Linked DNA regions of Homo sapiens. The protein of the gene in region 2 purifies or fractionates together with the protein of the main gene of each other region. This does not show direct contact. Each region holds a gene or a part of one and is shown on either strand. Other genes may lie near its edges.

Region 1 (7,337 bases), on a different chromosome or scaffold from region 2:
TGGGGCCCTAGAAGGTCCTGTGAGTTTAGAGCTCTCTACAGGCAGGCTGTAGAGCCCATCATCCCTGCCTGGTGCCTCTCCCAGCCCCTCCCGGCTGCCTCTGGGCCGCTTCAGGGTCATTGTGATCCGCCCCTCACCCCTGGGCATCTGAGTAGCAGTGGGCACTGAGGCCTGGGGACTAAGGGTGGGGCTATTGTGCCCTGGATGCCCTGGCCGCAGCCACCTGGGGCACTGGGACTCTGACCAGGGCAGCCAGGCCTACCCTTTCCAGATCTGGGAGGCTTAGGCTGGGTGGCTCTGGAAGTAGAACTTCCACCCCAAGACCAGGCAGTCAGAATACAATGGACCTAGAAATGAACAGACCCTGCGGGGCACGGTGTCTCACGCCTGTAATCCCAGCACTTTGGGAGGCCGAGGCGGGCGGATCACCTGAGGTCAGAAGTTCAATACCAGCCTGGCCAACATGGTGAAACCTCGTCTCTACAAAAAATACCAAAATTTGCCATGCATGGTGTTGTGCACCTATAATCCCAGCTACTTGGGAGGCTGAGACAGGAGAATCGCTTGACCCTGGGAGGCGGAGGTTGCAGTGAGCTGAGATCATGCCACTGCACTCCAGCCTGGGTGACAAAGCGAGACTCCATCTCAAAAATAATAATAATAATAATCCAAGGTCTGGGTGCTAGGTGTGCTTCTTGCTATTGAGATGTCATTTCTTTCAGGCAGTCTCAGCTGACAAAGAAATGTGTGTGTATACTATGAAACACACACATATCTATAAATATTTCTATAGGTAACCATCTGTACTTATATTAAGCTAAACATGAGCTCATGCTGACATCTCCAACTCTAATCCGTTACACAGATCATTTGAGACTCTGTCTCACAAAAAAAAAAGAGGCCAGGTTCCAGTGGCTCATACCTGTAATCCTAACACTTTGGGAGACCGAGGCAGGTGGATTGCCTGAGCTCAGGAGTTCGCAATCAGCCTGGGCCACATGGTGAAACCCCGTCTCTACTAAAATACAAAAAAATTAGCCGGGCGTGACAGCGTGTGCCTGTAGTCCCAGCTACTTGGGGGGCTGAGGTAGGAGAATTGCTTGAACCCGGGAGGCGGAGGTTGCAGTGAGCCGAGATCACGCCACTGCACTCCAGCCTGGGCAACAGAGTGAGACTCCATCTCCATAAAAAAAAAAAGAAAGAAAGAGCCGGGCACGGTGGCTCACGCCTGTAATCCCAGCACTTTGAGAGGACAAGGCGGGTGGATCATGAGGTCAGGAGATCGAGACCATCCTGGCTAACACGGTGAAACCCTGTCTCTACTAAAAATACAAAAAATTAGCTGGTTGTGGTGACGGGTACCTGTAATCCCAGCTACGCGGGAGGCTGAGGCAGGAGAATGGCGTGAACCCAGGAGGCGGAGCTTGCAGTGAGCGGAGATCGCGCCACTGCACTCCAGCCTGGGCGACAGAGCAAGATTCCATCTCAAAAAAAAAAAAAGAAGGAAGGAAGGAAGGAAGGAAGAAAAGAAATTAACAGACCCACTTTCAAGTCCATGGTCTGCTGTTTTGCTGTGTGATCCTGGAGAAGTGTCTTCTTTCTCAGGACTCCCTGGGCCTTATCTCTGAGTCTTGGCTGGGAGAGGGCCGAGAGGAAGCTCATAGTATTGTGAAGCTGGGGTGGGAGACAGAGGTCATTTACATGAGTATTTCACTGGCGTGGCATAGTTTCATAATTTGAAAATGAAGAAACGACTTTGTAATTCAAATAACAGAGTGACTCACTAGAGAACGCGTCGCCAAAGATATATTCTATTTTCTGTCAATGCTTCTCACCAGGGATGGAGGGACATACTTTCCTGGAGAGCTACAATATTGAGTGGGGGAGGGAGATATTTTTGTATTTATTTAAAGGGTATGTGTCTTTTTTAATGGCTGCGAAACACCAGATTAACTAGACGGTTTCTTTTTTTCTTTTCTTTTCTTTTTTTTTTTTTTGGAGACGGAGTCGCGATCTCAGCTCACTGCAAGCTCCGCATCCTGGGTTCACCCCATTCTCCTGCCTCAGCCTCCCGAGTAGCTGGGATTACAGGTGCCCACCACCACGCCCGGCTAATTTTTTTGTATTTTTAGTAGAGACGGGGTTTCACCGTGTTAGCCAGGATGGTCTCGATCTCCTGCCCTTGTGATCCACCTGCCTCGGCCTCCCAAAGTGCTGAGATTACAGGCGTGAGCCACTGCGCCTGGCCTAACTAGATGGTTTCTAAGGAGCCCTCCAGCCCTTGCACTCTGCAAATATTTATCAAGGAACTACTATGTGCTAGGCTTGGGAATTCAGAGATGCCAGAGGCTTTGAGGTCAGGGAGCCGGCCAGTCCTGGGAAGGCCTTGGAGCGTGGCTGTGGGGAAGGGGCTTGCTCTTCTGTTGACAGGAAATAAGACAGGGCTGGATTTTTAGGCATACAGAGAGCTTGGATCAGAGCTGCCCCCTGGCGGAGGATTCCGGACACCCCCACCGATTGAAATTGCCCAGGATCAATCCCTTTGCTTAAAGACACAGAAAATGAAGCTTGGGAGAGGGGCTCAGACCAGGGGTAGCAGTTGTGACCTAGAATAGTCTAGAGGGTATGCCAAATAAGATGCACATACACACATCCTGCGGACTCAATGCAGAAGGGGCTTTTTAGCATCCCCTTTCTACCGTAGCTTTCAACACATTTAGAGCAAACACACTTTAAGCACCTTCTGTGTGCGTCGCCCAGAGGAAGGAACACCAGGATAGTATTATTATTATTTTATTTTTGAGACAGAGTTTCGTTCTTGTCACCCAGGCTGGAAAGCAATGGCGCGATCTAGGCTCATTGCAACTTCTGCCTCCTAGGTTCAGGCTATTCTCCTGCCTCAGCCTCAGAGTAGCTGGGACTACAGGCATGCACCACCATCCCTGGCTAATTTTGTATTTTTAGTAGAGACGGGGTTTTGCCATGTTGGCCAGGCTGGTCTCAAATTCCTGACCTCAGGTGATCCGCCTGCCTTGGCCTCCCAAAATGCTGGGATTAGAGTCGTGCACCACCGTGCCCTGCCAACACAAGGATATTATTAATAGTATAGGAAAAATGAACTTAAGATGGATATTGTCATTATAACAGCTTCCATTTCCTGAGAACCCACTGCAGGTGCTGAGCTGAAGGTCTGACGTGCAATGTCCCACAAGTTTAACCCTCTCAGAGCATCAGAAGTTGAGTAATTATTACGTTGCTCAACTTCCTCTTCTGACAGGAGACTGAAGCTCGGAAATGTTAACAGGCTCTACCCACCTGCAAGCTCCCGTTTCCATCACCGCTGCCTCGGAGATAGCTCCAGAATTTCTTTGCATGGGAGGAGCCTAGGGAAGGGCCACGCTTTTGGAATGGAAACGTCATGGGCTTGTTTTGCTCATTTCAGTGGGAATCCCATGGCACTGCCGAGAGTATTTCTTTTTATTTTATTTATTTTGGGGGGTCGGTATTATTTTAAGATGCTAATGGAGATGGGTGGATTTGAGGACCAATGGCTTTTTTTTCCCTTTTTACTCAAAGCCCGCACAACACACTCGTTTTTAGAAGTCCAGCCTGCAGCCTCCAAACGAACTGTTGTACGTGCTGGGGACGGGGAGAGGGCGACGCTGCGGCTCTTTTCCGTTCGGGAGGTCCTTCTAGATTCCCAAAAGTCAATTTAGTCAAGTTTTGAGCTGTAACCTGTGTTGGGCGCGGTGGCTCACGCATGTAATCCCAGCAGTCTGGAAGGCCGAGGTGGAAGCCTCGCTTGAGGCCAGGAGTTCAAGATCAGCCTGAGCAACAGGGTGAGACCCCGTCTCTAATTTTTTTTTTTTAAAGAAGTCAAATTAGGCCAGGTGCGGTGGCTCACGCCTATAATCCCAACACTTCGGAAGGCAGAGGCGGGCGGATCACTTGAAGTCAGGAGTTCGAGACCAGCCTGGCCAACATGGTGAAAACCCGTCTCTACTAAAAATACAAAAATTAGCTGGGTGTGGTAGCTCACGCCTGTAGTCCCAGGTACTCTGGAGGCTGACGCAGGAGAATCGCTGGAACCTGGGAGGCAGAGGTTGCGGTGAGCCGAGATCGCGCCACTGCACTCCAGCCTGCTTGACAGAGCAAGATTCTATCTCAAAAAAAAAAAAAAAAAAATTTAAATTATTTTTCAAAAGAAGTTAAGTTAAATCCGGAGCCCGCGCGGGGGAGGGGCGAGCTGAGCGAGGGGGTGGAGCCAGCCATGGGCCCGCCCCTAAACGCCCGGAAGTGACGTTGGCGGACAAAGGCAGCGCGCGCCGCGAGCTGTCGCGTCTGGTCGTGGTCTGGCGGAGCTGCGGTTGGCTTGTGGCGTCTCCGCCGCCGCCGCCCTCCCTTCCTCTTCCCCATCTTCTTCTCTCGGTCCCGGGAGCCCCCGCCCGGAGTGAGTAGCGCGAGGCGGTGCGAAGGGTAGGCAGCCGCTGGGAGAGGGGAGGCTGCGACCCCTAACTGTTTCGGCGCCCTGAGGTCCCGGGTCCCCGGCTCGTCACGTGACCCGGCGCGTGCGCGCGGGCCGGCACAGGCCTCACGTGCGCGTCCCCAAGAGGTCTACGGGCCGGACCTGGGCAGGGACTACGGAGCAGTCCATGGGTCGGGGTACAGGAGGAAAGTCAAGGCACTCAAAGCCCAGGCAGGGCACTCCCCCACCCCGGTCCCCAGACCGCAGCAAATCCCTTTCTCTGAGCCTGTTTCCCTTCCGAGAAACAGGGATATGGAGAGCGCCCACTTGGAGGATGGATGGGAGGAATCGGTAAAATCGGTAAAATGCCCAGTTCAGAGCCTGGCACAGTTAAGTGCCCGCTGCACAGAAGTTGCTGTCGTATTTAACCTTGGGTGCCACCCGAGCGCCAGCCCGACACAGGTGCAGCTCAAAAAAGACAGCCCGAGAGCCCTTGCGGCCAAGGTCAGCCTGTCTGCAGGGAGGCTGCCATATCGAAAAGCCCAGACTTTGCTGCGCACCAACTGTGTGATCTCTCCCTCTGGACTTTGGTTTCTCCTCTGTACTATAAGTGATTGCCACAACTGGTGTCAGAGGCCCTGACAGCGGGGAGGGACAGTGTAACCGGTGGTTGTGGTGTGTAGAATGATTGCCCAGTGAGATGGGATGAGCCTCTGGGAGGAACCAGGGCTGGTATAAGGAGCCTGGATTCCCTCCTTAATTCTGTTCTCGGCTTCCTGTTTGTATGTTTAAAGACACGTCACTTCCTTTAGTGTGCTGGTTTTTCTCTATGTAAACTGAGGACTGTGCGGGGGTTGGAAGGATGCATGGAGCGTTTTGGTGGAGGCCGGAAGCCCTAGGATCACAAGGATGGCATCTAAAAAATCTCGGTGGGGGTTCTGTGCTTATAGGCAGAGGAAGCTCACTCCCCACTCTGGCTGATTTGCAGAGCTGTTTGAGTCTGCTGGCTTGGCCGCCCAGCATACCAGTAACAGTCCCCTAGGTGTGTCCAATACAGCTTCTGTGGCATTCTAAGGCAGTTTTCCCATTTGATCCTCATAGTGGGCAGAGTTGACAAGAATCTCATTTGACAGAGATTTCTAAGCTCAAGAGAGAATATGTGCCCGGCACTGTGCAAAGCACTTTAAGCTTTTCATATGCACTTTTAATCACAGCCTTTCTGTAAAGTCGGTATTACTGTTCCATTTTATAGGTGAACTGAGGAATGGTGAGGTTTAATGTCTTGTCTGTGCTTACACAGCAGGTGTGCAGAGCCAAGATTCAGATCTGGTTCATCTGGCTCCATCAGAGCCTTTGTTAGTTTTTAAATGTATCCCCTGTTTTGTCTTCTTCCCTCCCTTTCTCACTTCCTTCTTTTTCTTAGAGCACTCTGCCGTTTGCATGTGGCCTGCTGCTGTCCACAAAGATCCAGGGAGGATGGACTCTGTCCACTAGGCTGCTAGAGGGTGGAGGTAACTTTTAGGCAGGCTTTTCCGTAGAGACTTACGTGAGGAGGATGAGATGACTGCAAAAGTCTGCCGGTGACAGTTTCAGCACTGTTTTCTTCCATGGGTCGTGGGAGAAGAGATGCAGTACCTTGGGTCTGAACACCTTGGCGGGGAGGAGGAGGCAGCAGCCAGGTGACTGTGAAGGATGTAGGATCACATTTACTGGCTGAGCAGCCATTTACCAGGCATGAGGGGTTTGTCTTCCTCTCTGAGCTAGCCTAGAGTGCACACAAAGCCCGTGTGCTCCTGGCCCCCTCCCAGGCCCTTCAGCCACATACGGCATCTGTGCTCTGGAGCAGAGTGTAGCAGGACCACCTGCTGTTGGCTGACTGACCTTGCTGTTCCCTCAGACTCTTAGGGACCTCCTCCTGCCCCACTCCAATCTGGACACCACGAGGCAAAATGTAGCCAGGACCCCAGGAATCCCGTTTATTAATGAATCAGCTGTTAGGGCAGATGTCAAAGTCAGGCTTGCTATTTCCCGGCCAGGATGTGCCTCCCCTGGCTTGTTCCCAGAATTTGCGTGTAAGTGGAATTCTTGTAAATTAGATTATTCAGGGGACCCTGACATTTAAAGGAATCATGTTACAAGGCTTTTGGTAAAGCACAGAATTATATTGTCGGTAGCAGCCTTCAGGCCTTCAGTATTTACCAGTTCTGAATGGTTGGACTTTTGTCTGTAGGATTTTCTTAGAGTGGAAAATGGCTATAGCTGCACAAAGCCCATTCTTGCATTATTTGGCAACCAGTTAGTCAATGCCCACCTGGTATCAGGCACTGGGCTAATGGTGTACAAGGTAATGTCTCTACCCCCAGGAAGCTGCATGCTGGGAGAGGAGACGGATGGAGTCCAGCCTGGTATGTGTTTGCCCCCAGATTTATTCTGTTCATTTGATCAGAGGTGAACTTTCTGTTGAATATTTGTGTTTCATGGGATGCAAGAGAAGCATGGTGATAAATCTCAAATGTTGCCACTGCTCTCAGGAGCTCCCCGGCCAGGCGAGAGAGAGAACTGAATACAAAACCTTCAGTTTGCCAAGTTGGGCGGTGAGAGGGAGACAGGCTTGCTCTCGCCATGGTCCAGTCTGAATGGGAGTTGTGCCAGCATGGTGTGGAAGAGTAGTAGTTCGTTTTTTAACCTTTGTCTTTAATTTTCCCAGCCACCAAGTGTTTTTTGTTTTTTGAGACAGGGTCTCGCTCTGTTGTCCAGGCTGGACTCAAACTCCTGGGCTCAAGCAGTCTTCCCACCTCAGCCTCCCAAAGGGCTCAGGTTATAGGTTATAGGTTATAGAGTAGTTTTGAATGCCGTCCTCTCTTGAGTGACT
Region 2 (7,097 bases):
GATCGCTTGAGCCCAGGAGGTTGAGGCTGCAGTGAGCTGTGATCACACCACTGTACTCCAGCCTGGGCAACAGAGCAAGACCCTGTCTCGAAAAAAAAAAAAAAAAAAAAGGTACAGCCCAAATATATGTATGAAAAATGATCCAAAAATAGAGTTGTTAGCTACTCTACCTATGGTGTAGCCCTGCTCTGCCTATGGAGGAGCTGCCCTTTTATAACTAAAATAAACAAATTAATTAATTAAAAAGAGTTTTGTTTTTGTTTTTTTGTCTTTCAAATTCTGTAAATTGTATGACTGACTGGGTTTTCTTTTTTTCTTTTTTCTTTTTACAATGGCTGCCAACAAGTTCAGAGTCAAATCTGTGGCCCTTCTCTACCAGGTGCACAGATCTTACGCCATTCCTTTTAGTCCTAAATCTTATCTCGCTTGGCTTCGACTTATTTTTCCTACGTTTTCCCTTTGCATCAATTTTTTTACTTATTTTTAATCTTGTTGATGATATAGGTTTACATTTCTGTAAGCCAATATAAATCTACTTTGGTTTTGTTTTTTCTTTTTTTTTCTTGAGACAGAGTCTAGCTCTGTCACCCAGGCTGGGGTACAGTGGCATGATCTCGGCTCACTGCAACTTCCACCTCCCAGGTTCAAGCGATTCTCCTGCCTCGGCCTCCTGAGTAGCTGGGATTACAGGTTCGTGCTACCATGCCCAGCTAATTTTTGTATTTTTAGCAGAGACGGGGTTTCACCATGTTGGTCAGGCTAGTCTCGAACTCCTGACCTGTGATCTGCCCACTTCGGCCTCCCGAAGTGCTGGGATTACAGGAGTGAGCCACCGCGCCTGGCCCTACTTTGGTTTTCTTAAGATGAGATCTCGCTCTATCACCCAGGATGGAGTGCAGTGGTGCCATCACAACTCACTGCAGCCTCAACCTCCTGGGTTCAAGCAGTCCTCCCAACTCAGCCTCCCAAGTAGCTGAGACCACAAACATGCACCACCATGCTAGGATACTTTTTTTTTTTTTTTTTTTTTTTGAGACAGAGTCTAGCTCTGTAGCCCAGGCTGGAGTGCAGTGGTACAATCTCACTCACTGCTACCTCTGCCTCCTGGGTCCCGATTCAAGCAATTCTCCTGCCTCAGCCTCTCAAATAGCTGGGATTACAGGCATGCGCCACCATGCCCAGCTAATTTTTGTATTTTTAGTAGAGATGGGGTTTCACCATGCTGGCCAAGCTGGTCTTGAACTCCTGATCTCGTGATCCACGCCTTGGCCTCCCAAAGTGCTAGGATTACAGGCGTGAGCCACCGCACCCAGCCTTTTTTTTTTTTTGGTACATCTTCTTTCATACCTATGGGGACCCCTCATTTCTAAGCCCATAGAGACAGGGCTTTGCTGGTTCCGAACTCCTGGCCTCAAGCAATCCTCCCGCCTCAGCCTCCCAAAGTGCTGGAATTACAAGGGTGAGCCACTGCACCCAGCGCATGTAAATCTATTTTGTATCAGTGCAGGATATAAATAAAACTACAGTACACTTAGACAATATTCATTTGCCTCTGAAACCGGCAGAATAAAAATAAACACAGTTCAAGAATTCATGCTTAGAAAATATAAATCTACTTTAGTAGAACATCTTTAGTTATTTTTCTGTTTTTAAAAAACTTTTTTTTTTTTTTGAGATGGGGGTCTATGTTGATCAGGCTGGTCTTGAACTCCTGGCCTCAAGTGATCCTCCTATCTCAGCCTCCCAGCATGCTAGGATTGCAGGCGTTGAGCCACTGCACTGGGCCATCTTTAGTTATTTTTAAACCACATGTATGTACTATTTTGACAAAAATTATACCTAAAAATATATATATTGAAGAAGAACACAAACCTTCTCCTGGACCTCCACCACCACCACCCTTTGGAGTAATGAGTTCTCGACGAAGCTTAGCAAGACGAGCCTTAAGCAGCCCTAAGTGGTGTGCTGTGGCCTTGTTCTTTTGAGTCCGAGCCATCTAAAAGGGAGGAATCACAGCCATAAATTAGAAGCAGTGAACGCTTCCCCCAGCTTTGAGAGGATAATTTTTTTCCCCAAGTCCTACTAATGTTAGCACACCCAGTTTACAGGCTTTAAAAGAGTAAAAGTCCATTATCTCCTCCATCCAGCTCATTTCCCTCACTACAAAGCAAAGCAAAGCCCAAAGAGGAAAGACGATTAAGGTCATTCCAATTAGTGCCCCCAGACTAGACTGAAACCCGTCTGCGGGTTCCTTTTCTACTATTTGCAGCTGTTTGGATCCATCTAACACTGGGACACCACTTTCCTAATTGTAAAGCGCTCTCAGGGCCGCACGCAATGGAATCACACACTATCCAGGCGGAATAAACTGCTCCCACACAGATGTCATTTTACTTCCAGATCCGATTACCGGGAGCAAATACTCTGAATCAGGGGGTCATTAGGGTAGACACTGGGAAAAGGGGGAATAAGGGGGACGCAGCGAAGGATGATGAGGAAAGATCCTGAACTATCTGACCAAGTCAGAGATGGAATAAGGGACAGGATTCAGTGTTTCTCAGAGCAAAACGGAAAGAAACAACATCAGAACAGGAGCCAAACACTGGGAGGGGGAACGGACTAAGGGCCTAAGGTGCAGGGGTGCGGAACGCGGGCCCGGGCAAAGGGGAGTCCGAGAGCGTAGACGCGGGACGAGGGGAAAGGGGGCCCTGACTGAGGAGAGTCGGGGACTCCTAATCGTGGCAGAGGGCAGTCGGAACACGGGCCTCGCTGAGAGAAGTCGCGGAATCTAGGCCCGGTCCTGACGCGGCTCAAAGGAGAACAGGAAGGAGCGACGCCACCAAAGAAGGAATGCTCAGACTAAGAGTGAACCGCCAGCTGCGTCCATTACCTCTGCTTCTATCTCCGCGATCTTAGCTAAGGTGCTGCTCATCGTGGCGAGTACCCTGTGGCCTCCACACTGTCTCCCTTCACACACCCGCGGGCAAACTGCCACCGCCACCAGGCGCTACTGCAGCACGCAGGCGCGGTACTTCGAATTACCGCGAGAGAGTTCCGCGTAGGGGTCACCGCGAGTCGCAAAGCGTGGGGCTGTCTCCTCCCCCTCACCCGACCCCGCCCCGTCCCGCGAGCCAGTGCGGTGTCATAGAGCCCGCGGGAGCGGAGGCCAGAGAGGCCACCCCTGTCTGGGCCTCCCCGAGCGCGCCGAGGGTCGCGCGCAGCTCGGCCCCGCCCAGCGGGACCCGCTCCCAGCTGCTCTGCATGGTACTGAACGCTTCAGTGCTGGAGACCCCAGGGCGTGGTGCAAAGCCGACTCATGCTCCGCACCCCTGTTCCTCGCCAGCATCTGCGGGTCCTGGGTCCCTTTTTCACAGCTGGGGTGACACCCCGACGCCCTCCATGGTCTTGGAGGGAGTAGAGACCCATCTTCAGCCTGCCTCACCCCCTTGGATAAAGAAAATGCCCCCTTTCTATCATTCAAAATTATTTTTAGGTCGGTTTTGTTTACTCCGAACCCCGAGTAGAGCACATGGGGAGCCCAAAATAAGTGCATACTTGAATGGATAATTCCCAGAGAACTGCTGCTTGCAACATAGTTTGTAATACCAAAAAATTGAAATCTATATTAACACCCATCAGTAGGAAAATGGATAAATGAATAATGCCTCTATCCTGTTTTTGAAATATGATTACAGCCGTTAAAACGTAGATCTGTGGTCTGACTGGCTACCCAGGACATGTTAAATGGGAAAACAACTAGCAGAAGGGCACCTACGTAGTGATACCATTTATGTTATTTTTAAAATTAAATGTACATTTATATAGGTGTACGTGTATGAACGTGCAGTTTAAAGGCCTAAACAGAAAAATACATCAGAAGCTCTTAACTGTGGGATGGGATGCAAAGAAAAGGCCTTTCACATTTTATTCCACAGAATTTTGAAGTTAAATTTTTACAAGACGAATGTATCCATGTATTACTTGTGTAATAATAAAATTTAAAATTTCAAAAGACTCCTCTTCCCCAAGTGTCATGAGGAAGCCAGGACGTCCAGGAACTATGTGGTGGTTTTGAAAGCGGTTTGCCTCAGGATCAATGGGTTGTTTTGATAGATTGATTATTCCAGCGGGAGTCGACAGGCCAGGCTTAACCCACAGTCGACAGGCCAGGCTTAACCCACAGGGCTGGCCTCCACCCAGCCCTGGGAGGGAAGTTTAATTTAGTTAAATTTGTAAACAAGAACTATTCTAACTTCCCAGAGACAAAAAAGGGAGGTTTTCTTGTGCATAAAGAGGGAGAAACAGAAGGGAAAGCTTTTACAGAAGGTCCCCAAAGGGCCAAAGAGAGTTTCTTCTTTCTTTTCTTTAACCTCAGCCTTTTTCATAAATAAATTAAGGGATGATGAGGTAATTAGATCCCACACTATTAGCAATGGAGGAGGGAAGATGAGGAGGTCCAGCTGGAATGGGACATGATCAAAGATCAATCTTAAAAGACAGATAAAATCAAATCAGCAGGCCTATCCTAACTTGAAGTACTTAAGGAATTAATTGGCTGACAATATCAAGGGCATCACTGCTCTGTGAGTAGGTGCTCCTTAGCAAATCTATTATATGAGGCCTGCAGATAAGTTAACACTTACTGCTCAAAGACACCCTGGGACCCACCTTGGGGCCCTGAACTGTCAATAGGCACCAAAGAGTAATACTCATTTTCCCGAGTCCTGGGTGGCCATCCTGTTCATGCAATCGTTATTTACAGAGCTCCAACTGCTGCCTGGCACTGTGACAACACTGGGGACAGAGTAGAGAGTGAATCAGATATGTTCCTGCACATAACAAGTATTTAGGCCGGGCGCGGTGGCTCATGCCTGTAATCCCAGCACTTTGGGAGGCCGAGGTGGGTGGCAGATCACGAGGTCAGGAGATCGAGACCATCCTGGCTAATACGGTGAAACCCGGTGTCTACTAAAAATACAAAAAATTAGCCAGGCATGATGGCATGCACCTGTAGTCCCAGCTACTCAGGAAGCTGAGGCAGGAAAATCCCTTGAACCCGGGAGGCGGAGGTTGCAGTGAACCAAGAATGTGCCACTGCACTCCAGCCTGGCGACAGAGGGAGACTCAGTCTCAAAAAAAAAAAGTATCCAGGCTGGGGCTGGGCACAGTGGCTCACCCCTGTAATCCCAGCACTTTGGGAGGCCGAGGCAGGTGGATCACCTGAGGTCAGGAGTTCGAGACCAGCCTGGCCAGCATGGTGAAACCCCGTCTCTATTAAAAATACTAAAATTAGCCGGGCGTGGTGGCGGGCGCCTGTAATCCCAGCTACTCAGGAGGCTGAGCAGGAGAATCGCTTGAACCCGGGAGGCAGAGGTTGTAGTGAGCCGAGATCATGCCATTGCACTACAGCCTGGAGCCAGGACGACAAGAGCGAGACTCTATCTCAAGGAAGAAAAAAAAAGAAGTATCCAGGCTGGGAGGCCAAGGCCAGGACCTTAGGTTCAGCTCCTAAGAGCCATAGCTACCCCATGTCTGTTAAGTACCAACTGCAGCAAGGAGAGCCCATTTGGTCATATGAATAAAGCACTAGCACCTTGGTATTAAATGTGTAAAAAATAAATAGGCCGGGGACAGTGGCTCACAGTTTAATCCCAGTGCTTTCAGAGGTTGAGGTGGGAGGATCGCTTGAGGCCAGGAGTTCAAGACCAGCCTGGGCATTGAAGCCAGGAGTTCAAGACCTGCCTGGGCAACATAGGGAGACGCCCCATCTCTACAAAAAAAAAAAAATTAGCCGGTCTGCAAAAAATTTAAAAATTAGCCAGACGTGGTAGCACATACCTGTAGTCTGAGCTATGTGTGAGGCTGAGGCAGGAGGATCACTTGAGCCCAGGAGGTCAAGGCCACAGTAAGCCATGATCAGATCACTGCACTCCAGCTTGGGTAACAGCAAGACCCTGTCTCAAAAAAAAAAAAAAAAATTATTCAGGCTTGTTGGCCCGCACCTGTAGTCCTAGCTACTGGGAAGGCTCAGGCAGGAGGTTCACTGGAGCCCAGGACTTTGACGTTACACTGGGCTATGATCCCACCACTGCACTCCAGCCTGGGTGAAAGAGCGAGAAACTACCTCTAAAATAAATAATAAATAAGTAAAACAAAGATTGACAGAAAAGCTTCATCTCTTGATGAGACACTCCCACCATTCCAGAACAATTATATGTGGTCAAATACATAGGCTTTCTCGGGCACTGTTTTACTTCTCTTGACTCCCATTAAACCATGATCCCTGGCCAGGTTTGGTGGCTCACGCCTGGCTCACTCCCAGCACTTTGGGAGGCCAAGGCAGAAGGATCGCTTAAGCCCAGGAGTTTGGGACCAGCCTGGGTAACACAGCAATACCTCATCTCTACGAAAATAAAAAAAATTAGCTGGGTACAGGGGGCAACATGACGAAACCCCGTCTCTACAAAAAATCAGTGTGGTGGTATAATCTCAGCTACTCGGGAGGCTGAGGTGGGCCCAAGAAGACGAGGCTGCAGTAAGCTGTGATCATGCCACTGCACTTCAGCCTGGGTGACAGAGTGGGACCCTGTCTCAAAAAAACAAAACAGACAAAGAAGAAAAAAACAAAACAAAAAAGACATGATCCCATGAGGAAGGAGTGATACTATATCTATCTCCAGCACCAGCAGATGTGCAGCTACAACAACCTCTTGAAAGATATTTTAAAAATGGAAATTTTAAGAGAGAAATTGTTTTTTTTCAAGAAGCAGAAAAGATGTTTGAAGTGATGTATATCCCAGTTACTCTGATTTTATGACACATTGTATACATGTATCAAAATACCACATGTAGCCCCCAAATATGTACAACTATTAAATATCAACAAAAATTTTAGAATAAAATAACATAAAGAGAAAGAAAAAGTATTTAATTTTTTTTCTAAGTAGTCTGTATATGTTATTATAGACACCTTAATAATTGAGTCAGGTTGATGGAAGAAGTAACAGGATAATGATACAAGAAAAATCCATGTTATTTATTTATTTATTTATTATGAGACAGGGTCTTACTGTGTCACCCAGACTGGAGTGCAGTGG
Region 3 (7,020 bases), on a different chromosome or scaffold from region 2:
ACTACTTACAAAATTTACCTTTGGTAAAGAGCAATGTCATAAACCTTCAAGGAGATGTAATGAAGAAAAACTTCTCCCAGCACCCACCACCCCAGGACTCTTTCTTCCAAATTTCAGTGCAACACACCCACATTCCCACCAGTGCACCCAGCAGTAGTGCTGGTGTGCAGACATTACATTCATTTTTTTAAGCATTAAGATAAACAACTTAATCTTTGATATGTAGCCTTTACAGATTTCTGTGGTATGTTTAAGCTATCAAATTATTGCAAGCCACAAGGTCTTAATAAGGATCACAGTTGGCTGGGCGAGGTGGCTCACGCCTGTAATCCCAGCACTTTGGGAGGCTGAGGTGGGAGGATCACAAGGTCAGGAGATCAAAACCATCCTGGCCAACATGGCGAAACTCCGTCTCTGCTAAAAATACAAAAAATTAGCTGGGCATGGTGGCACGTGCCTGTAATCCCAGCTACTCGGGAGGCTGAGGCAGGAGAATCGCTTCAATCAGGGAGTCGGAGGTTGTAGTGAGCTGAGACAGCACCACTGCACTCCAGCCTGGGCGACAGAGTGAGACTCCATCTCAAAAATAAATAAATAAATAAATAAATAAATAAATAAATAAGGATCACAGTCGCTGGCAGAACATGGCCCACAGGATCCAGCCTCCTCAGGAAGGTGTCCAGACCTTGAACCGCCATCAGCCCCCAAGGCTGGACGTGGTCAGAGGAAGGGGCGCCCATCATCCATGCGGACCCACCTGCATCACAAACTCCCTGCGGCGCGGGAGGCCTCGCTCTGTGAGGAGCGTGTACTCTGGCTCCTTCTCCTTTTTTGCCTGCTGGATCTGGGCCAGTCGGCTAATCGGATTGATCCCCTGGCCATATTCTGGGCTTGTCTGTGGCTGAGGAACAAACAAGGCAGAAACTCTGTAATGTTATTCACCGCATGAACTTGGTCAACTCAGAGATCAGGATATGAGAGGAGATAAGAGATTTTGGGTTGACCTAATGGCTCAGAATTCGATTTTTTTTAATTTAACATTTTAACAATGAAAAGATGCTTTATTTTTTTTATGATTGTTCTAGGTGATTTTAAGGTCTTAGCAAACCAACATCAACATTTCACTATAACGAAGCGTCACTATGACTGCGACGGCTGTTTTTTAACATATTTCAACATATGACAGTAAATGGGCAGAAAAAACATAAAACACTATTCCTACAACTCCCCAAAAGTCTGAGCTATGATGGGTTCCCAATTTTCTTGAAAAGAACTCAAAATCCAGGAACCACTTTTTTAAAAAAGCTCAAGCTGATGCCACATGGCAAGAAGAACCTCAGAATCCCAGTTACTTCCTTGAGGCCACCTTTTGTGCCAAGGAACCCTCACTCTGCTGATCAGAAGTGACTTCCAGGCTATATTAAGCAAAAAAGGGAAACAAAAGGTATACATAGTATGCTTTTATGTAAGAAAAATTTGGATCTTGATACAGCATGAAACTACATATACTGAAAATCACAAAGTTCCCCATGGAATTATGTCCCCTTTCTGGGGTTGGGGAAGGGGTCAATATAATGCTTTGATAGATCCATTAGTGTGGCTCAAAAATCCAAAAGAAAAGGCACACAGCAAAATGTCTCACTCCTACCCTCCCACTATGGGCCTCCTGCCTGGCACAAATCTCCTCCACCTTCAGAACAGCAACATGGTCACTGAGACACAGGCACTGTTATTTCACCACGCGCCCCACAGACCGGCATGGCGTTCCTGCCCAATACCCCACTGTGATCGCCAGGGCTGTGATGAGCGCCCTCCTGCACAGATGTGTGTGCCCGTCTGCGGGTACCTCTACTGAACTGACACAATGTCCTTATCTTACCTAACAGGTGGCTCTTGCAGCACCTCTAAGGGGTCTGGCAGGCCTGGGGTGTGGCACGTTGGTCTCATCCCCTTTCACCTTGGGGACAGCGACCAGCCTTCTAAACCCCCCACCCATCTATAAGTAATGAAAACACCTTCTGTGTTCAGAAAAGTTCTCACCTTGACTATGGGTTTTGTTTTCTTTTTGATTCTAGGCTTTACTCGTTCAACTGCAGGCAGGGGCGGTAACTTCTTCAGCTCCTCAAGAACAGCTATGGCGGCATTTTTCTTTGAAATCTTCTTGCTTTTCCCTTCACCTTCCCCCACAAACTCCCCAACCGAAACCTTGGTCACAAAGTTCTTCATGTGGGGTGGGCCACTCTCCCGGGCCACCTGTTTCAGAGGGAAAGACTGAGTGAAAGCGGACAGACACTTATTAAAAGCTCCAAGGCACACTGGCTGGCACACTTCACACAGACACAGGGAAGGGGAACCAAGGACAAGACCTACTAAATGAAAGGAAGCGGGGATCATTTCAAATGCTTTCTCGCCTTTCTTCTTACTTCTCAAACTGGTTTATGCTCTTGAGTCTGGTGAGTCCCAAACAGTCAGGCATGAAATAGGGAGACCTTTTTACTCCCATGCCCCTGGCTCACAGGCTGTCCTGAGTTTAGTGTGGTCCACTGCAACTGGCAAAAAGGAAGCTAGCCCAGCAAAGTCCAGAAATAAATGCAGTACAAATGCTCAAGTTTAGTATCTGCTCTGAGCCTCCAGCCAGGACTAGGCCTACTAAATACTGGTTGCTATGTGGCCACAAAAGAGAACGAGACAAATCTCTTAAGCACTGATAAAGAGGGATTCCCCGCACACATTAAGTAAAAAAAAAAAAAAAAAAAACCCACAAAAGAGTATATGGTATGGTAGCTTTAGTTTAAGAAAAATAGGATTTTATACAAATATCTACACATATATAAACAGACACACATTTATAAGCTCATTTTTGCAAAAAAAAAAAAAAAAAAAAAAAAAACGAAGGATAAAAAAAATCAATGGGCTGGACATGGTGGCTCACACCTGTAATCCCAGCAATTTGGGAGACCAAAGCGGGTGGATCACTTGAGGTCAGGAGTTCAAGACCAGCCTGGCCAACATGGTGAAACCCCCATCTCTACTAAAAATACAAAAATTAGCTAGGGGTGGTGGTGCACACCTGTAATCCCAGCTACTTGGGAGGCTGAGGCACAAAAACCCCTTGAACCTGAGAGACGGAGGTTGCAGTGATCCAAGATCACAAAACTGCACTCCAGCCTAAGCGATAGAGTAAGACCCTGTCTCAAAGGAAAAAAAAAAAAAAAAAAAAGCAAGCAATGGGCCAGGCGCGGTGGCTCACGCCTGTAATCCCAGCACTTTGGGAGGCCGAGGCAGGTGGATCACGAGGTCAGGAGATCGAGACCATCCTGGCTAACATGGTGAAACCCCGTCTCTACTAAAAATACAAAAAAAATTAGCCGGGCGTGGTGGCAGGCGCCTGTAGTCCCAGCTACTCGGGAGGCTGAAGCAGGAGAATGGCGTGAACCTGGGAGGCGGAGCTTGCAGTGAGCTGAGATTGCGCCACTCCAGCCTGGGTGACAGAGTGGGACTCCGTCTCAAAAAGCAAGCAATGAAATTAGTTACCTACAACAGGTGTGAGGGATTAGGGTAGACAGACGGGATGAGACGGGAATGATAGTTTTGACTTCTGGAAGCATTTACTGTTTTACATATTAAAGAAATAAAACTAAGTCAACAAAGATGGGGAAAGAATCTAAAATTAAACATGAACAGAAAGTTAGCTGCATATTAAAGTGATTACAATCTCCAAATGGACCAAAGACCTACACAGAGGCGCTAACATGCACAACTCTCAGAAGCAAAAACAGGCGAGTCTTCATGACTTTGGGTTTGGCAATTGGTTTTTAAGATATGAAACTAAAAGCACAATCAACAAGAGGGAAAAAAAAAAGTCACACTTAATCAAACTTTAAAACTTTTGTGTATCATGGACATTATCAAGAAAGTGATTACAATAACACAGATAGAAAATCAGGCTGGGCAGGGTGGCTCATGCCTGTAATCCCAACGCTCTGGGAGGCCAGGGTGGGAGGATCACTTGAGCTCAGAAGTTCAAGACCAGCCTGGCCAATACAGCAAGACCTTGACTCTACAAAAATAAAAACAAAATTAGCCAGGTGTGGTAGTGTGCCCCTGTATGTAGTCCTAGCTATGTGGGAGGCTAAAACAGGAGGATCACTTAAGCCCAGGAGATCAAGGCTACAGGGAGCTATGATCACACAACTGCACCCCAGCCTGGGCAACAGAGCAAAACCTCGTCTCAAAAAGCAAAAAAAAAAAAACAAAAAAAAAACAAAAAAACTTAAAAATCTAACCGATATTAGCCAAGACACTCAAAAAGAAAAATAGAAGACTTACACTACCAGATTTTAAAACTTCCTATAAAGTCACAACAACTAGGATATGGTTTTGTGTAAGGATAAATAGATCAACAGAACAGCACGAAAAAGACCTGCACATATAAGGTCACTCGATTTTTGGCAAACACACCAAAACAAATTAAAAATCTCTTAAAAAAATAGTACCAGAGCAACTAACTAGGTATCTGCATGGAGCGGGGTGGGGGGAAGAAAAAAAAATCAAACCATGATCTCTAACTCATACCACAACAAAAATTAGACCTAGGATCACTTAAATGTGATCTAAACTAAAATTACAAAGACTTTATAACAGGAGAAAGCCTCAAGACTGTAAGGCTGGCAAAGAGTTGAACACAAAAGATATCCACCATAAAGAAAAAAGAAATTCCTCAAAATTAAAAACCACTGGCCGGGCGCGGTGGCTCACGCCTGTAATCCCAGCACTTTGGGAGGCCGAGGTGGGCAGATCACGAGGTCAGGAGTTCGAGATCAGCCTGGCCAACATAGTGAAACCCCGTCTCTACTAAAAATATAAAAAATTAGCTGGGCGTGGTGGCGGGCACCTGTAATCCCAGCTACTTAGGAGGCTGAGACAGGAGAATTGCTTGAACCCAGGAGACGGAGGTTGCAGTGAGCTGAGATGGCACCACTGCACTCCAGCCTGGACAACAAGAGCGAAACACCATCTCAAAAATAAATAAATGAATAAAATAAAAAATAAACTGCTCATCAAAAGACATTTAAAAAGTAAAAAAGGGGGCCAGGTGCAGTGGCTCACGCCTGTAATACCAACACTGTGGTAGGCCGAGGCGGGTGGATCACCTGAGGTCAGGAGTTTGAGACCAGCTTGGCCAACAGGGTGAAACCCTGTCTCTACTAAAAATACAAAAATTAGCTGAGTGTGGTGACACATGACTGTAATCCCAGTTACTTAAGAGGCTAACACAGGAGAAATGCTTGAACCCCAGAGGCGGAGGTTGCAGTGAGCTGAGATCGCGCCATTGCATTCCAGCCCGGATGACAGAGCAAGACTTTGTCTAAAAAACAAAAAAAACTAAAAAAGGGGCCAGGCACATTGGCTCACTCTTGTAATCCCAGCACTTTGAGAAGGCCAAGGCGGGTGGATGGCTTCAGTCCAGGAGTTTGAGACCAGCCTGGGCAACATGGCAAAACCCCGTCTCTACAAAAAAAATACAAAAATTGGCTGGGCTCGGTGGCTCACGCCTGTAATCCCAGCACTTTGGGAGGCCGAGGCAGGCGGATCACCTGAGGCCAGGAGTTTGAGACCAGCCTGACCAACATGGAGAAACCCCATCTCTACTAAAAATACAAAATTACCTGGGCGTGGTAGCGCATGCCCATAATCCCAGCTACTCGGGAGGCTGAGGCAGGAGAATCGCTTGAACCCAGGAGGCAGAGGTTGCGGTAAGCTGAGATCACGCCATTGCACTCCAGCCTGGGCAACAAGAGCGAAACTCTGTCTCAGAGGAAAAAAAAAAAATACAAAAATTAGCCCAGTGTGTGGTGGCGTGTGCCTGTAGCCCCAGCTACTTGGGAGGCTGAGACAGCAGGATCACTTGAGCTCAGGAGGTCGAGGTTGCAGTGAGGTGAGATCATGCCACTGCACTACAGCCCGGGTACCAAGTGAGTTCTTTTCTCTAAAATCAAATAAAATAAACTTGTTATTTCAAAATATACATATTTCCTAGCTCTATCTCCTAACCGAGAGCCATGGCTCTCCAGCAGGAACAAGCATGCTAGCACCCTGTCCTGTCTCTACACACCACTCCCAATTAGAAGGAACCGGATCTTCTTGGAGGAATGGCCAAGACCATTTCTATTAGAAATTTATGTTTCCACTGGGGCTAAAGCTAGAGCAGGGGAAGTTCAAAGTGAGGCTAAAACATTTTGTTGTATCAGAAAGCATGGAAGTTCTCAAAATGTGAAGAGGGGAGGTGCAAAGGTTATTTAATAAAGGACTGTCTCAGCCAGGCATGGTGGCTCAAGCCTGTAATCCCAGCCTGGGCGACAAGAGCAAAACTCTGTCTCAAAAAATAAAGGACTGTCTCTTCAACAAACAGTGCAGGCACAATTAGACATCCAAATCCAAAAAAAAAAAAAAAAAAAAGACAAAAACATCCCTTATGTCACAGTATATATGAAAACTAACTCGAAATGAATTATAAACCTAAATGTAAGAGCTAAAACTAAAATTTCTAAGGAAAATGACTTTAGGTTAGCCAAATGTATCTCAGCATACACAAAAATTATTAACTATAAAAAATTTAACAAACTACACCTCACCAAAATTCAATACTTCTGCTTTTTGAAAGTCACTTAAAATCAAACGACAAGCCACAGACTTAAGAGAAAATATCTGCAAAATACTTATCTGAGAAAAAACTTGAATTCAGAATATATATAGAACCTCCAAAACTCAATAATAAAAAGACACTCAAAAAAACTGGCAAGATATAAACCTATATTTCATCAAAGAAAATAGTAAAATAAAAACACGAAAAGAAGCTCAGTATTGCTAGTCTTCATGGAGATATATAAATTAAAACCACAACAAGATACTACTGACTACCTGCTAGAATGACTTTAAAAAAAAATTTTTTTTTTTTTTTTTTTTTTTTTGAGACGGAGTCTCACTCTGTCACCCAGGGTGGAACGCAGTGGCGCGATC
Region 4 (7,876 bases), on a different chromosome or scaffold from region 2:
CTCTCTTGCCTTAAGATTCCAAAAAACAATAACAGAGCAAATCTACCCTTACTCAGAATTTTGCTTTGGGCACTTAAAGCAAGTCAGCTTCTCCACTCAGAGGAAAAGGTGAGATGCCAGCCAAGCTGTCTTCTTCCCACGATCAATAACCCCAGTGACGCACACTATCAAGGGCTCCTGGACTTACACAAAATGCCAGCTCAGGCACCCAATACCACCTGATGTCACGGTTGATTTAAAACCCACAAGGTAGGTTCACCATTAGCCAAGCCAGGATGAGTAGCCCCATTTAAAAGGAGTGCTCTCTCCCGGGGATGATTATACCCTTTTGAGTTTAAAGAGGGGAGAAGGACCAAAGAGTGTTTTAAAGTTGTTTTCCTTCACTCTGTGGGTGGATAGGAGGGACTGAAAGAAAACGGAGGTTTCAGCACTGTCTTTTGCATAAAAGGGCTCTGGAAGGGAAAGGGGGGAAGGGGAGGAGGGGGGAAGGGGAGGAAGGGGGAAGGGGAGGAGGGGGGAAGGGGAGCAGGGGGGAAGGGGAGCAGGGGGGAAGGGGAGCAGGGGGGAAGGGGAGCAGGGGGGAAGGGGAGCAGGGGGGAAGGAAGAGAACACAGTATGAAGGACTGTTAGTAAACCCCAAATGTCCCCTCCTCCAAATGAAGCAACCTGAAAAGAAATAAAAATTGCAACATGCTGTTTTCAGGACTGGCTATTCTGGCTTCCCTAGGACTAGCAGTGCTTCTACTCCTTTGACGGTGAAGACATTAAGCTCCCCCTTTATTTTTGATGGTTTAAACCAGTTAGCCTCAACCAGCTACGGCAGGTGAGTTTTTTAAAAGCACCAGGGCTACGACCAGAGGCCATCATTCCAACTGCAAGACAATTTTAAAACCGACCCACCACAAACGGACCCAAAACCAAAGAATGGAGACCCGCCCTATACGCCGGCCGAGAGAGGAGAGTGGGCGCGCCCCCCCCACCCAAGCCGACGATCTATTCTCGGCAAAGGCAATGCAAGAGCAGACTCCATATTCTGCACCGCCTCTCCCCCCACGCTGACACGGCTCTGCTGGGATTTCCTGCACCCCTTACCTCCCCCCGGAAAGGGGCACGGTCCAAAAGGACCAAAACGCGGAGGAGGGAGAGGGAGGACTCGCGGAGCGCCGGTCGGCAGTCACATGCCGCTCCCCGCGCGGGGAGGCACCACGTTGTCCCGGCTGCAGAGGAATGCTGGGAAGGGGGGACGCGCACACACCCGCGCCGCGCACACGCACACTCGGGCCGCGCCGCGGGCCCGCACCCTCCTGCCACCCCCAGCGCCGCGGCCCGCACCGAACGCCGAGGCCGAGCGGCCCGCGGGCCGCCGGCGCGGCGCATGGCGCCCAACTGTCACCCGCCCGCCCAGGCCGGCCACTCCCTCCCCCGCCGCCACACGCCCCTCAAGTCGCCGCAGGCCCCTCACCCGCCTCACATTTTCCGCCAACCTCCTAACTGGCTCCCCCAGCACACTCGCCATCGGGCTCCTTCTTAAGGCGGAAGGTGCCCGGGATCGGGGAGGGAAACCACCGAATTCGATGACACGATGGGTTTCTTCTCCCCACAACTGACCCCTCAACCCGTCTCCAAATGGCGATTCTAAAGCCCAATTTCATCTCCCCGAGAACAAAACTTGTTAACTTTTAATCCCCGCATCCGTGCGGCCAGCATGTACTCCGCGCCGGGCACTGGGTTGCCCGTGACATATGCTCATTAAACATTTACAACATGGGGACGCTCGCAACGCTACCAAAACGGGGAGCGCCGGGCGGGGTGGGAAGAGGGGCTTCCAGAGGAAGGTTCAAACCAGAAACCGTCTCTTACACCAGCATGCGGTGGGGATCGTTTCACTGAAACCAGCGCCCACCCTCTGCCGACGAGGTAGGCCCGAACCACACCGTTGCCCACTAACCGCTGCGGCCCAGGCGGTGGCCGTAGCCTCCCGGAGGCCGGGCCCTCGGGCAGGGGCAGGTCCCTGAGTGTACGGTGGGGGGGAGGGCGCGGCGACCAGGATCAACCAGGAGGCAATTTTAAAAAGTCCCGAGTCACCATGACCGGTAGCAGACCCCGGGGCCCTGGAGGTGCTGGGGGAGGGGACTCCCATGTCCCCGGAAGAGGCCCCCGGACCCAGGAGGGCAAGGAGGGAGACCCACCTGGGGGGGACTGTCCGTTCACGGTGGTCAGGACCGGCGGCAATGCGTTCTTAGTCCACGGGTTCACCTTGGGCGGGGGGGCTTCCACGAAGTCCCGGCGCCCCGCGCCCGCGGCTCCGGCAGCTCCTCCGCCAGCGCCTGGCTCGCCGCCGCCCTCCTCCCCGTCGCTGATGGCCGGGCCTTCGGCGCCGGGCAGCTGCAGCGGCCGCGGGCTCTCGCGCTCCTGCTGCCCGGTGCCCTCCTTGTGCGGCTTGGCGCAGGGCGGCCGGGGTCTCCGAGCGCTGCCGTCCGGCTCCCCCCCGCGGACGTCGTTTGGCCCGGGCTCGCCCTTGCCCTCGGGCGCCGGCGGCGGCTTCTTCCTCACCAGCCCCCCGTGCTCTTCGGCCTGCAAGAGCGTGGCGCCCCCAGGCAGCAGCGGCTCCACCTGAGTGGCCATCTGCGCGCCCGCCCCCCCGGAGAAGCCGGGCGCGCCCGAGGCTGCCTCCCCCGCCTCGAACTTGGCTAGCAGAGCGCCCGCGACGCCTTCCTCCGGGGCGCTGGGCCCCAGTCCCTGCAGAGAAGGGTCGGGGTTCACGCGAGGTGCGGCCCCCTCCCAGTTAGATGCAGCCGCCGTAAATCCGAGGCCCACTAGCGGGGCGGGGGGGGAGGAAGGCCCCCCACTCTGCAGTCCAGGCCTCCTAGGCGTGCGTCCCCCCCCGCCCGTTCCTCGCAAGACGCCCCCACCCCGAGCCCGGCAGGCTTCTAGTCCCGTCCCTCCCTCCCCCCCGCCCCCGGGGCGGCCCGGGCTTCCCGGCTCGGGGGCTGCAGCAATATGGACGGACGGGGGAGAGGCGCGGCGAGCCAAGCAGACCACGCGATCCGCGGCAGGCGGCGGGCGGGCGCGCGCCTCACGACGCGGCGGGCGAGGGGAGGGGACGGCGCAGCGGGGGCGCGCCGCTGGCCGGGCCCTGGGCGACGGGCGGGCAGGAGGCGGCGGGACGGCGCGCGCACGGCTACGCGGTCCTGCCCCTCGCCCCGCCCCTCGTCTCCGATTCCTCAGAGCACCTCCCGGGCTGGGGGTAGGGACGCTCAGACCGGACGGGGGCGAGCACGTGCCTGATGCAATTCGGGAGTTGTCGGTGGGGGCGCTGACGGGGATAGGAGAGAAGGCTGGGCGAGGAGGGGAGGTATCTTAAAGGGCCAGCGCGTGAGAGCGGCCTCAGGTGGAGCACATGGGACCCGGCCACGCGGCCTGCCGGGCCTGCTCGTGCTCTTTAGGCTGGGTGTCAGATTCAGGGGAAGGAGCCATTAGTGTCATTCCTGACTTCTAGGAGGCCGAAGGGAGGACCCTCATCCGCCCCGAGGACGCGCCAACGCCGCCCCCTCCCCTGTGCCCGGCGGGCCTGGCCCCTTCGGTCCCCGCCCGGGTGACCTTGGTTGGGTGAGCCGTCCGCACCTCAGTGGGTTGTGCTCCGCGCCTCGCCGCCGCTGGGCCTGGCCTCGACACTACCCGGAGATGGGTTCAACTCCGGGCCTGGAAAGCGAGTCTTTAGCCCTTGCGGGCAGCCGGCGCCTAGGAAGTGGGAACGGAATTACTAAAGCCCTCACCCAGGCCAGGCCCTTCTCCCCGCCGCGAAACCTTGTATTTATGGGCAGGAAATGTCTTTTCTTTCAAGTGGATGTCGTTTTTTTTCTAAAGAATTGCTTTGGGCGGAGTTGAACCGTCCCTGGATTGGGACTTCTGAGATCTGAGATTTTATCCTGGCCCTGCCCCCTTACCATCTCTGCAGCAGTGACTTCCAGCTTCGTGGGCCTCAGTTTCTCTATTGTAAAATGAAGGAGCAGTGTATGACAGCAGTTTCAAACTTCAGTGTACATTCGATTCAATACTTACTGACCTCGTACTGTGGGGGCCTTGCAGGGTTCTAGGAAACGGGTTTGGTATAAACTAGGCTAACAAAGTCCCTATCCTCATGGAATTTATTCTAAGGTGGGGAAAGAGACAATAAACAAGTAATAAATTATTGTCTAGTATCTATGAAGACAATAGTTAAACTGTGGTAATCAGTTAGACTAGATGGGCTACTTTTGTTTGGGTGATAAGGGAAGACTTCTTTGAACGCAGATGCCAAAGTATTAGGAATCAGGCTCGGTCTGGGACTGGACCCAGAAATCTGCGTGTCTAGCAAGATCCCTTTGGTGCTTATGACTTCACTTGGAGAAGTCCTGGCTTCTGACTGGCTGTGATCCCACGTGCTCACATAACATAACAGCCTGGAATGTTGGCCATCTCCAAAACAAGAATTAGAGCACACGACCTGCTGGATCTAGGAGAAGACTGAATGAAAAGCCTCTTGGAACTGCCCCAGCCAGCAAAGCTGAGCTGTAGGATTGTTGTAACCAGTATGGGGGAGAAGTACTGGTAGGGATAGCCAGGTAATGCCATGTCTACTTCCAACTCTTGGGTTATTCAGCCTCCAAGCCTTGGCCAGCTAGCCGCACTTCCCTGGACCCCTCTCCTGGTGGAAAAATGGGGGTAAATAATGCCTGACTTGCTTCCACCCTCTGAGCTCATGTGAAGGTCAAGTGAGACAATGTTAGTCAAGGTGCTGTGTAAATTTTATAGACAAGCCAGTACGTCAAAAGAGCTACCAAGGAAGGTAATGTTACTCAATGAATTAAACCAGGAATCTACTAAGTTCATTACATGTACTCTTAATCAGAAGGTAAATTATTGCACATTGCCACTGAAATGCACTATTTATTTATTTGAAGAGATGAGGTCTGTCACCCAGGCTGGAGTGCAGTCATTGTGATCATGGCTCACTGCAGCTTCAAACTCCTGGGCTCAAGCCATCCTCCTACCTCAGCCTTCGAAGTAGCTAGGACCACTGGCACGTGCCACCATGCACAGCTTTATTTTTACAAATTTATTGATAAGTAATCCCTGAAGAGATTATTCACTCTAGACCCTCTCTAAACTTTGTTAATAGGGGACATAATTATTATTGTTAGTTGTTCTTTTTGTAATTGGAGGTAGAGAAGTACCCTCCCCTGACCCCTGAGAACTCGTGAGGGTACGAGGGCACTGTGTGGACAAGAAACTCGTTCATGCTACTCAGCAGTCAGAAACAGGGTTGAACAAGCATGGCCAGGCCCTGCTGTGTAGAGGGTGGAGGGGTACTGAGATCTGCCTACCCTGGGCCTGCTCTGCCCCAGAGAGAGACAAACTAGGGCCAGAGAAAGTAAGAGACCTGTGTGAAACAACATCTTTTTTTTTTTGACTCTTACTCTGTCGCCCAGGCTGGAGTGCAGTGGTGGGATCTCAGCTCACTGCAACCTCCGCCTCCCGGGTTCAAGCAATTCTTCTGCCTCAGCCTCCTGAGTAGCTGGAATTACAGGCGCCCGCCACCATGCCCAGCTAATTTTTGTATTTTTAGTAGTGATGGGGTTTCACCATAATGGCCAGGCTAGTCTCAAACTCCTGACCTCAGGTGATCTGCCCACCTCAGCTTCCCAAAGTGCTGGGATTACAAGTGTTAGCCACCATGCCCGGCCGAGACAACATCTTAGGCTTAGAAGCTGTTAGAACTGGAAAAAGGAATCATAATGATTACTCATTCTCCTTGTTTTGCAGATGAAGAAACCAAAGTTCAGAAAAGTGAAGTCCAAGGCCGGGCACAGTGGCTCAAACCTGTAATCCCGGCACTTTGGGAGGCTGAGGCAGGCAGATCACCTGAGGTCATGAGTTCAAGACCAGCCTGGCCAACATGGCGAAACACTGTCTGTACTAAAAATACAAAAATTAGCTGGGCATGGTGGCGCACACCTGTAATCCAAGCTACTCAGGAGGCTGAGGCATGAAAATTGCTTGAACCCAGGTGGCGGAGGTTGCAGTAAGCCGAGATCACCCCACTGCACTCCATCCTAGGTGACAGAGCAAAACTCCATCTCAAAAAAAGAAAAGAAAAGAAAAAGGAAGAAAAAGAAAAGTAAAGTTCCTTATCCAAAGTCACACAGCAGAGCCAGACAGAGCTAGGTCTCATACCTGAATCTCTTTATCCTAAATCCAGTAGTTTTTTCTACATTAAAATAATGAAACTGGGGCTGGGCATAGTGACTCACACCTGTAATCCTAACACTTTGAAAGGCCAAAGCAGGAGGATCACTTGAACCTAGGAGTTAGAGATCAGCCTGGACAACACAGTGAGACCCTGTCTCTATTTTTTTTAAGTTTTAATAAAAAAATGATGGAATTGGGATTTGAATTCAGGTTTTTTTGATTCCTAACCAACTATGGTATTTTATATGCATATATTTCTAAATACAGTCATCCTCCCTTATCCCAGTGCATGCCTGAAACCCCAAATAGTACCAAACTCTATATATACTATGTTTTTCCTATATATACTTACCTATAATAAAGTTTAATATATAAATTAGGCACAGTAAGAGATAAACAACAATAAATAATAAAATAGAACAATTATAACCATAGACAGTAATAAAATTTATGTGACTGTGCTCTTTCTCTCTCAAAACATCTTATTGTATGTAATATTTTCTGACCACAGTTGGCCACAGGTAACTGAAACATCAGGAAGCAAAACCACAGATAAGAGGGGACTAGTAATGACCAAATAGTCAGTAATGACCATTTAGTAATGACCAAATAGTCAGGAGTAATGACCAAATAGTCAGGAGTAGCTACTTTTATTGGGTAACTAGTGTACGCTAGGTTCTATGGGAAATACTTGATATTCATTATCTCATTTAATCTTCATAATAACCCAGTGGGATAGTTATTATTTCCTTAAATGTCTACTGAGCCCCTACTATGTGCCAGGCACTACAGGCTAGGTCCTGGAATGGTTATTGTCTTCAAATTACAAAGGAAGGCAATTGAAATTCAGAAAAGAAAGTAAGGTGGGTACTCAGCATCATAGGCAGCAGCTAACTATCAGAGTGGGGTTTTTCAGGGTGTTCTATATCGCCAGGCCTTATTCTTACTCACTGCACCACTCTGTACAGCCTACTTCTCTTCCCTCCATTGCCATATCCATAAGTATTTATGGAGAATCCCTCAAATACTTAGGCCTCAGGAAGATACCAAACAAGTTGAATCCTATCTTTCTAAAGGGTAAACTCTAATTAGAGGAACCAAATAATTGAGCAATATTTAACCTGTGGCCAAAAAAAAAGAGAGGCCAAAAAAAGAGACAAAATATGCTTTAGGCAGAAAGTGACAAGGATCAGGCTAACTTGTGCCTAGAGTTTAAACACATCATGTGCTTAAACACTAGGCCAGGTGCTATGGCTCACACCTGTAATCCCGGCACTTTGGGAGGCCAAGGTGGGAGAATTGCTTGAGCCCGGGAATTTGAGACCCACCTGGGCAACACAGTGAGACCCTGTCTCTACAAATAAATAAATAAATAAATTAGCCAGGTGTGGTGGCACATTCCTGTAGTCCCAGCTACTCAGGAGGCTGAGGTGGAAGGATTGCTTGAGCCTGGGAGGTGGAGGCTGCAGTGAGCTGTGATTGCATCACTGCACCCTAGCCTGGGCAACAAAGTGAGACGAGACCTTGTCTCAAAAAATAAAACTCACCAAATTAATAAAATGGGTCCAAATACCTATTTGGGCTGGGCATGGTGGCTCACACCTGTAATCCCAACACTTTGGGAGGCCGAGGCATGTGGACCTCT

Evidence for each region.
Region 1: the proteins of DRG1 (region 2) and NTMT1 purify together in Homo sapiens (affinity purification with mass spectrometry; 5 studies listed by BioGRID and IntAct, with this or other methods). This does not show direct contact.
Region 3: the proteins of DRG1 (region 2) and STAU1 purify together in Homo sapiens (affinity purification with mass spectrometry; 2 studies listed by BioGRID and IntAct, with this or other methods). This does not show direct contact.
Region 4: the proteins of DRG1 (region 2) and LARP1 purify together in Homo sapiens (affinity purification with mass spectrometry; 2 studies listed by BioGRID and IntAct, with this or other methods). This does not show direct contact.

The regions. Positions count from the first base shown.
Region 1 is NC_000009.12:129,621,846-129,629,182, forward strand, and holds the start of NTMT1 (N-terminal Xaa-Pro-Lys N-methyltransferase 1), read left to right. Parts: upstream 1-4,317; 5' UTR 4,318-4,450; exon of another isoform or gene 4,451-6,870; intron 6,871-7,337. UniProt on the Homo sapiens protein: Distributive alpha-N-methyltransferase that methylates the N-terminus of target proteins containing the N-terminal motif [Ala/Gly/Pro/Ser]-Pro-Lys when the initiator Met is cleaved.
Region 2 is NC_000022.11:31,395,519-31,402,615, reverse strand, and holds the start of DRG1 (developmentally-regulated GTP-binding protein 1), read right to left. Parts: upstream 3,013-7,097; 5' UTR 2,933-3,012; coding exon 2,891-2,932; intron 1,997-2,890; coding exon 1,873-1,996; intron 1-1,872. UniProt on the Homo sapiens protein: Catalyzes the conversion of GTP to GDP through hydrolysis of the gamma-phosphate bond in GTP. Appears to have an intrinsic GTPase activity that is stimulated by ZC3H15/DFRP1 binding likely by increasing the affinity for the potassium ions.
Region 3 is NC_000020.11:49,122,335-49,129,354, forward strand, and holds part of STAU1 (double-stranded RNA-binding protein Staufen homolog 1), read right to left. Parts: intron 2,272-7,020; coding exon of another isoform or gene 2,254-2,271; coding exon 2,041-2,253; intron 902-2,040; coding exon 758-901; intron 1-757. UniProt on the Homo sapiens protein: Binds double-stranded RNA (regardless of the sequence) and tubulin.
Region 4 is NC_000005.10:154,750,507-154,758,382, reverse strand, and holds the start of LARP1 (la-related protein 1), read right to left. Parts: upstream 3,007-7,876; 5' UTR 2,626-3,006; coding exon 2,190-2,625; exon of another isoform or gene 1,861-2,189; intron 1,230-1,860; exon of another isoform or gene 1,093-1,229; intron 1-1,092. UniProt on the Homo sapiens protein: RNA-binding protein that regulates the translation of specific target mRNA species downstream of the mTORC1 complex, in function of growth signals and nutrient availability.